Regions from separate parts of the Homo sapiens genome. Here region 2 is linked to region 1. Evidence: fine-mapped expression QTL. Tissue or cell type: monocytes. Region 1 holds a variant in brackets; the other region holds the start of a gene. All regions are shown on one strand. Distances are from middle to middle.

The links. PIP is the estimated chance that this variant, and not a neighbour inherited with it, causes the effect.
Region 2: CPT1B starts here. The variant in region 1 is the best candidate, but not a certain one, in a credible set for the expression of CPT1B in monocytes (TOPMed, PIP 0.85).

What each region holds. Positions count from the first base shown.
Region 1 is chr22:50,554,806-50,559,189 of GRCh38, forward strand. It overlaps SYCE3 (synaptonemal complex central element protein 3), which reads right to left. Exons shown (of 3, transcript NM_001123225.3): 2 at 1,492-1,600. The coding sequence starts at 1,600. Among named protein-coding and RNA genes, the nearest start is that of SYCE3, 5.9 kb to the right of the region's middle. The variant T/C (reference allele first, on the strand shown) is at 2,365.
Region 2 is chr22:50,575,735-50,580,118 of GRCh38, forward strand. It overlaps CPT1B (carnitine palmitoyltransferase 1B), which reads right to left and starts at 2,693. Exons shown (of 20, transcript NM_152246.3): 1 at 2,652-2,693; 2 at 2,041-2,200; 3 at 1,590-1,729; 4 at 1,123-1,300; 5 at 802-903; 6 at 464-601; 7 at 301-378. The coding sequence starts at 2,181. CHKB (choline kinase beta) reads right to left here. Exons shown (of 11, transcript NM_005198.5): 8 at 4,240-4,348; 9 at 3,993-4,096; 10 at 3,692-3,773; 11 at 3,229-3,521. The coding sequence ends at 3,447. It overlaps CHKB-CPT1B (CHKB-CPT1B readthrough (NMD candidate)), which reads right to left. Exons shown (of 30, transcript NR_027928.2): 8 at 4,240-4,348; 9 at 3,993-4,096; 10 at 3,692-3,773; 11 at 3,302-3,521; 12 at 2,041-2,200; 13 at 1,590-1,729; 14 at 1,123-1,300; 15 at 802-903; 16 at 464-601; 17 at 301-378. RefSeq lists an enhancer at 406-700 and silencers at 406-700, 2,185-2,264, 2,605-2,724.

The DNA of each region.
Region 1 (4,384 bases):
AACATGGTGAAACCCTGTCTCTATTAAAAATACAAGGCCAGGCGCGGTGGTTTACGCCTGTAATCCCAGCACTTTGGGAGGCCGAGACGGGCGGATCACGAGGTCAGGAGATCAAGACCATCCTGGCTAACACAGTGAAACCCCGTCTCTACTAAAAATACAAAAAATTAGCCAGGCGTGGTGGCGGGCGCCTGTAGTCCCAGCTACTCGGGAGGCTGAGGCAGGAGAATGGCATGAACCCGGGAGGCGGAGCTTGCAGTGAGCCGAGATCACGCCACTGTACTCCAGCCTGGGCGACAGAGCGAGACTCTGTCTTAAAATAAATAAATAAATAAATAAAACCAAGCTGTGCTCTGACCACCTTGGGCACATGTCATTAGGACCCCCTGAGGCTGTGTCACAGATAAGTGTCCCCAAACTTGGCAAAATAAACTCTCTAAATTAACTGATACGTGTCTCAGCTATTCATAGTTCAAAAGTACATAGGCAAAAAATTGCAAACATTTCTAAGGAGAAATTTTCTAAAGTCTGCTCTAGTGAATAAAAGCTATTTGGCCAGGCACGCTGGCTCATACCTGTAATCCCAACACTTTGGGAGGCCAAGGTGGGTGTATTGCTTGGCCAAAGTTGGTTCAAGCCGTGAGGAGAAGGAGAAATTGGGTATGCCTCGTTATACCTGCCTCTCTTTTGGAATTCAGGAAAAGGTGACTAGCATTAACATGAACACAGACCTTAAGTTTGATAAGAAAGCTTTTTACAATCTATTCCCTCTGAAGCCTGCTACCCGGAGGCTTCATCTGCATGATAAAACTCTGGTCTCCACAACCCCTTACCGTCATAACCCAGACATTCCTTTCTATTGATTCCAGGTCTTTAGACCATAACTCTTTCAACCAATTGCCAATCAGAAAAAATTTAAATCTATCTATAACCTGGAATCATCCCCCTTTGAGTTGTCCCACCTTTCCAGATCGAACCAATGTACATCTTTTTTTTTTTTTTTTTTGAGACAGAGTCTCACTCTGTCGCCCAGGCTGGAGTGCAGTGGCACCATCTCGGCTCACTGCAAGCTCCACCTCCCGGGTTCATGCCATTCTCCTGCCTCAGCCTCCCGAGTAGCTGGGACTACAGGTGCCTGCCACCACACCCAGCTAATTTTTTGTATTTTTAGTAGAGACGAGGTTTTACTGTGTTAGCCAGGATGGTCTCGATCTCCTGACCTCGTGATCCACCCGTCTCGGCCTCCCAAAGTGCTGGGATTACAGGAGTGAGCCACCGCGCCCGGCCGAACCAGTGTACATCTTACAGGTACTGACTGATGTATTCTCTCTCCCTAAAATGTATAAAAGCAAGCTGTACCCTGCCAACCTTGAACATATGTCCTGAGGACCTCCTGAGGCTGTGTCACAGGTGCATCTTTAACCTTGGCAAAATAAACTTTCTAAATTGATTGAGACCTGTCTCAGATACTTTTGGGTTCACACATCCTACCTGAGATTTTCTCCATCTCTTCTAATAGCTTTTCCAAGTCCTTATTCAGATCTGACAGCATTTTCAGCATGTTGTCATAGTTTCTTTCCTCAGGGTCAGCATCATCCATCTAGGCAATGCACAGAAAGAAGCTGCAGTCAGACAGACCTACATTTCAAATCCAGCTCCACTGGTTATAACTCAGTGATTTCTCTAAGGAATTCTTTCCCCATCTCTCAGATTCAGACAATACCACGTACTCCACAGGGCTGTTGTGAAGGTTAAATGGGAACATGTCTAAAGGCCCCAGCATAGCATTCGGCACATATAAGTTGTCCTTCCCCTTTCTTCCATCTTTGCCATACAAACGTAGCTGAAGGCTGGAGTCATTAACACAGAAAACATCTTCATTATAATGAAAAAAGTCTGTCATAATGGTGACATGGAATTTTTTCTTGCAAAACCATATTGAGTACCCACTAAGATGCAAGCTATTGTGCTGATGTGTTTCAAAGATACAATTCCTGTACCTAAGGAATTTCTAGTGCAATATGGGAGTAAGTCACACACACCATATGACAAACCAGGATGTGACAGATGTCGAAGCAGTTAATGTAATAATTACAGACATCAAGCGATGGGAGCCTGGAGGCGGGTACGTTTAATTTTAAAATATGAAATGATTCATACATTAAAAAAAATTATAATCAACTTAACTTTCCAGAAGAATTCTCCTGGGCATTAGAGGCAGTGCCCCATAGAGACTGTCCTGGTTCTGGAATTGAGCTGCCTGGGTTCAAATCTTGGCGCTACCTCATATCAGCAGTGTTACTTTTGGCAACTTACACATCTTCTCGACAAATTTTTGGTAATTTTTTTGAGTTTTTTTTTTTT[T/C]TTTGAGACGAAGTTTTGCTCTTGTTGCCCAGGCTGGAGCACAGTGGCACGATCTCGGCTCACCACAACCTCTGCTTCCTGGGTTCAAGTGATTCTCCTGCCTCAGCCTCCTGAGTAGCTGGGATTACAGGCAAGTGCCACCACGCCCGGCTAATTTTGTATTTTTAGTAGAGATGGGGTTTCTCCATGTTGGCCAGGCTGGTCTCAAACTCCTGACCTCAGGTGATCTATCCACCTCGGCCTCCCAAAGTGCTGAGATTACAGATGTGAGCCACCACACCCAGCCAAGTTTTGTATTTTTTAAACGGGAATTATTAGTATTACCTATATCTTGTGGAGTTTTGTGAGGATTAATTGAAATAAATTATATACTGTTCAGCACAGTACCTACCGTAATGAGCACTTAATAAATCATATCCGTTGTTATTTAAAATGTTGAACAGTAATTACATCACTCCAGATCCTCTCCTCACCTTTATTAATATACATTAATTCATTCTGTTAATATTTGATGCTCACCTATTTATCTACAAGGCACTAGTAAGAAAAGAGAGAAATAGATAAATAATGTAAGAGCTGCCAGGGAACTTGTAACCTCATGAAGGTGAAGGAATGAGCCAGGTAAGCATAAAACAGGGAGGGATGGGCCACAGATGCTGCGGTATTGTTCCCACTGTACATGTGGGGAAAGCCTTCCTGGTCTTTACTTCAGAGTTAAGGGCCTCCACTCAGTTCTCCTGTGACTTCCTGGGCCTCCCTCATCACGGTGCCTCTTAGCTGGTATTGTGATTGTGGATTCCTCTACCTCCCCAACTAGACTGTGGGGTCCTGGAAAGCAGAGGCCATCTTTCCAATGAACTATTCCTAGTGTTCAGCTCAGAGCTAGGAAAACAGCAAGTGCTTAATAAATGTTGGCTGAATAAAGGAGTTGACCATTGTAAAGCTCTAATTCTGAAAGAAAATCATGATCGTGGCCAAGCGCGGAGGCTCATGCCTGTAATCCCAACACTTTGGGAGGCCGAGGTGGGTGGATCACCTGAGGTCAGGAGTTTGGGACCAGCCTGGCCAACATGGTGAAACCCAGTCTCTACTAAAAATATAAAAATTAGCCGGGTGTGGCGGCAGGTGCCTAATCCCAGCTACTGGGATTACTGGGGAGGCTGAGGCAGGAGAATCGCTTGAACCCGGGAGGTGGAGGTTGCAGTGAGCCGAGATTGTGCCATTGCACTCCAGTCTGGGTGACAAGAGCGAAACTTCATCTCAAAAAAAAAAAAGAAAGAAAATTATTATCTTTCCCCTCTTGCCGTCCTCCCTGTTAAGGGTAGAGATTCTGAGGGAGGAGCAAAGGGCCCTCCAGGAGGCCTGACAGGCAGATCTGAGAATGAGGGTGCAGGGTCAGGGTGTATGGTCTTTCGGGATCTGTAAAGGAGGTACTTCTGTGGGCATGGAGCCATTCCACGTGCAGGGACTCCGTCCTGCTTTTTGGTAAGTAGGAATAGTTTGCTAAGAGTAAGTGGGGAGGTACAGGCAGGTGGCAGGGCAGGGGGCTAATAGTGGGTGATGGGAGGAAGAAATGTCCAGAACACCTTCCTTAACCCTCTCCTATAGCTATTCCCTCTCCTTCCTTTAGCAGCCAGGCCTCACACGTTTGTCTGTCCTCCTCACTCCACTGTCATCTGGCATCTGTCTCTGACATTCACTGACAATGCTCTCACCAAAGTCATAACTGGCACACCCAGGGCACTTTCTGTCTTTCTTTTATTTAACATCTCTGCAGCACTGACATTTGGCCATTTTCTCCTGCTCAAAATTCTCTTCTCTTGATGTTTTAACCTTGTTCTCTCCAAACTCTGTCCACCTGTGGTAGTTCCTTCCCTGCTCTTTCTTGGCTCTCTCCTTTACTGGCTCTAATGGGTCAAGGAAGGTCCTTTTAGCCCCTTCTCTTCTCACTACACACTCTTTTTTTTTTTTTCTTGAGACGGAGTCTCACTCTGTTGCCCAGGCTGGAGTGCAGTGGCGT
Region 2 (4,384 bases), 21 kb after region 1:
ACCAAGGAAAGAGGTGACAGAGCCCGAGCTGGGCAGGGGCAGTGACCCCGGGACTCTGAGAAGCGGTGGCAGGCTGGCGGTCTCCACTCTCCTCATCCTTAGGATCCCCATTGCCCCTAAGCTGCTTCTGGACTCTTCTAGGATCTCCTCTCTCTCTTCCCTTTCCCTCAGGCCTCACTCCATAACCCCCACTTGCCCACGGAAGCTGCTACTAGAGCTCTGGGCTGTCCTCCAGATCCCTTGCCTTGGAGCTGGGACAGAGCTGAGCACGTGCGGGGACCTGGGGGCTCTAGTTCATACCATGACATAATAGTTGCTGTTCACCATGAGAGGGCTCCTGCCTCGAAGGTAGATGTACTCTTCCCACCAGTCACTCACCTGTGGGGAGGTGGAAGGTTAGAGCTGGGGCGGGTGCAGCCAGGACACATGGCAGGTGACAGTGAGCCCAGGGGCAGGAACTTACATAGTTACTTGCCCACCATGACTTGAGCACCAGGTATTTCTGCAGCCTGGGGGCAGTCTTGTCCTGGAATTCTTTGGCCAGCAACTCCATGCGGTAATATTCCTCATCATCCAACAAGGGGCGCACAGACTCTAGGTACTGTCCAGCCAGTTATCATCACCGTGGGGCCAGATGGCAAGGGCTGCCTCTATCTTAATCCTCTTCCCACCTCTCCCTCCTCACCCAGCCCCATTATTCTCAAGCCCTTAAGGCCACTCTTTGCACAGAACCTTATATTTGGAAACATCTCCTGAATCCAACCTCCCCTGCCCACTGGGATGCCCAAGCGAGGCCCTCACCCGCTGAATTGTGGCTGACACCCTGGGCACAGGAAGCTTGGGCAGAGATGTCTGGAAGCTGTAGAGCATAGGGTGCCGGCTGGATAGAAGGCGGATACACATCTGGGGGTACAGAGCAGAGTGCTGGGGTGGGAGCCAGTGGAAAAAATGGAAACCAACCAGCAACTCCCTGAGACCCTCAGAGCCATCCCAGCCCCTCCAGGACAAACCACACACCAGGCACCAGTGCCCTGTCTGCCTCTCCCGTCTAGCTCAGAACCCCAAAGGAGTCCAAAGAGTCTCAACCCAGGTGCCTGAACCCCTCCACTGGCTGCTGCTCACAGCCCAGATCCTGGTCAAGTTGCTGGTCTTGCCATGCATCTCAAACATCCACCCATGGTAGCAGAGAAGCAGCTTCAGGGTTTGGCGGAAGAAGAAGATGCCCGTCACCCAGACGCCCGTGGAGAAGATGGCCATGCTGAGAAGTGCCCGGGTCTGCGGGGTCTGGTAGGGGCCACACCTATTGGAGAGGGGCAAGGGCTGCAGGGGGTCCTCTTGAGGCCAGCCTCGGGTGGCTGTGAACTGTCTCAGGGGAGACACCAAGGGGAAGAACCTCCCTGGGCACACTCATGTCTGACTGCATCAAATGAGCGGATGTAGGGCTAAGACAATGGTTGTCATAGGGGAGGGCTGCCCCGTGACTGCCAATGGCTGCTGTCCTGTATCTGCCCAGCTCAGGAACCTCAGCCTTGGGAGCTGGGCCCAGCCCTCCCTGGTGGCACCTGTGCCCTTCCAGTTTCACTCCTTACCCCTGAGGGAGGCATCTCTGGATGCAACTGACCAGCCCCAAGGAGATGTCCACGTTGCAGAAGGAGGAACCCACTGTTGCCATGATGACGACCAGCCAGCTGGTGGGGCTGCCAGGGTACACGCCCCTGAGGATGCCATTCTGTGGGCAGAAACAGGCGCCCTTATGGAGCCGGAAGGCGGGAGGTTAGCCTGCCTGTGAAGTCTTGGGAACTGGCTCCTGGTCTTGGCCTGGAAGGCTTTCTCTCCTGATGCCCTGCTGTGCTCCTTCCTCCGCCACACCCACAGCTCCCTGTGTCCGACCACATCCTGTGCACCCCTCTGGTGTCTGTACTTCCACAACCTGTACCGGGCAGAAGTGCCAGCCAAGGAGGCAGTGAGGGACCCTAACAAAGCGCTTAACAGCTGACAGCCGGCCTCTGCCTACGCTCTGGGAGAAGCACCTGTGCGCACCTTGATGCGGATCAGGCGTTTCTTCCAGGAGTTGATCCCAGACAGGTAGACGTGTTTCAGGGCCTCCCGACTGAGCCGGAAGTCGACCCCGTCTGGGGTCACCGTGAACTGGAAGGCCACGGCCTGGTGAGCTTCCGCCATCCTGGGGGTTGGTCGGCACCTAGGACGGGGGCAGATGGGTGCGCGGGCGCGCTTAGGCCGGCCCCGCCGCCAGCCGCGCCGAGACGCCCCCAGCCAGTCCGCGACCCCTCGCGCCCCCCACCCCGCGACTAGCGGCTGCCCCCGGCCCGCGCCCCCCGCCAGGCCAACCGCCGCCAAATCCTCGCGCCAGCCTTCCGGGTGGGCACAGCCACTGTGGTGCAGGGGATTTGGGCCTTGAAAGCTCCAGGAGCCCCAAGGACGGCGAAGGGCAGCCTGGAGTTGGGGGGCGTCAGCGAGGGCGCGGGCAGGGGAGAGAGGCGCCCCTGGAAGTGGAGCCGGCCTGGACAGAGGCAGGGTTCGGGAGCCCGCCCTTCCCCACCCGAGCGCGCGGGCCCCAGCGCCGTCCTCGCCCCTGTGCAGGGCTGAGGGCCCAGACCCCCGCGGGCCGCCCTGTGCCGGCCCCTACTCACAGCTCGGGTTCACTCCTGTCCGTGCGTGGGGCCAGCCACTCTGGCCCGTGTCCCCACGTCCTTCAGGCCTAGCCACCCCCGCCCCGCCCTCACCAGGAACCTGACACCTACTCCCAAATCGGGGTCGGGGAAAAACGTGGGGCGAGAACCAGAACCCACCCACCTTCCGCGGTGGGAATTGCAGGGCGCGGCTGGGTTTCTGTGCGGTGAAGGTTGCTCAAAGGTCTGGGAGCCTGGGGGGCCCCAGAGTCTCGTGAGGATGGTGGCTTTAGAGCTAAAAATAGCCAAATGTAGGGAAAAGGTCACCGATGTGTCAGCTGCTGCCTGTTCTGGGATCGCTGGTGCTCCGGGCGGCATCCCCACCTCAGGGTCGTCTTCATACCCCCATCACTCTCCTCCTCCCCAAGTCCTAGTATTTATTATTCTAAGCTGCAGCCAGGGGACTGGGGAGGGATGGGGGACCCCAACTGGCAGCATGAACGCTAACCACTTTCAATCCCAGAGCACTGAAGAGTCCCTTTGTGTGTACTGCTCGGTTTGGTACTTTCTGCTGCTGCTCAGCAGGGCCAGGACAGGGTGGGAAGAAGAAGCTTGTTTATTGTGTTACATACACAGCACGGGGCTCTGGCCTGCCAGCCATGGGGACCTACTCAAACTCAGGAACAGGCCGGTCTCCTGAACCTCAGTTTCACTTGGGGGCTCAGCCCAGTCGCCAGGGCCTTCTGCTCGTTGTTCCTCCCTCCAAGGTCCTGCCCTGGAGGCTCCAGGAGAAATCCAAGGAGTGGGAGGGTGGAGTCAGGATGAGGAGTGGACACTGGTCAGCTGCCCCTTCTGCTGGAAGTAGAACTGGAACCGAGACTGGGCATAGTCCTAGGGAAGGAAACCCACCCCACACAGTGGTGAGAAGACGTGGGACCAGCATTCTACATCCACCTCAGGCTGCCCACAGCCACCCGGGACTCCCCAGGCCTCCTGGAAGAGTGTGGCTGCTGCTGCTCCCCAGCCCCCCAGCTAGCATTCCCATCCCCAGGGTCACTTACCAAGTAACCAAATTCTATGGTGGACATGGATGCCTGGAGGATGGACCACAGACCCCAGAAGAAATGGGATGCCAGAGCATACCTGGGGGGAGGGCAGGAAAAGGAGGGGCATTCAAGAGCATGTCTAGCACTGCTTGGATCCCCTCACCCAGGTTGGCCAATCCCTACAGTTTTAACTTCTCCCCCACTGTCCTAACTCCACTCTCCACAGCCACCTTCCCTGCAGCTTGATAAATCTGCCTCTTCCCCAATCCCTCTTTCCTCTGCTCTGCCCTACCCCACCCTGCCCCTCCTTCCTCACCGACTGACTTCTACCAGCAAATCTTCTTCCAGTTTTCTCTGCTCCTCTTGGGAGAGGGTCTCACCTTTCTTTGCCTCTGCCAGGTAATGACGAATAAAATGCAACTACGATCAATGGCCAAGAGTCAGGAATTGGGGAGACTGTGGAGTATTTCCCAGGTAACATCCTTTCCGGCCATTCCTTCCAGACTCCACCTCCCTCCTTCCTCACAGGATGGGTCCTGCTCCCCAGCCTCTGGCCCACATACCTGCTGTTCTTGAGTGGGGTAGTCTGTGGGCCTTGCTTTGTAGAAAGGCCATTCCTCGTGAGTATAATCATAAACCCACTCACAAAAATGGTTCCCAATGTCAAAGCCCCTGGGAGAATAAGGTGGACATTCAGTCCCCAAATGC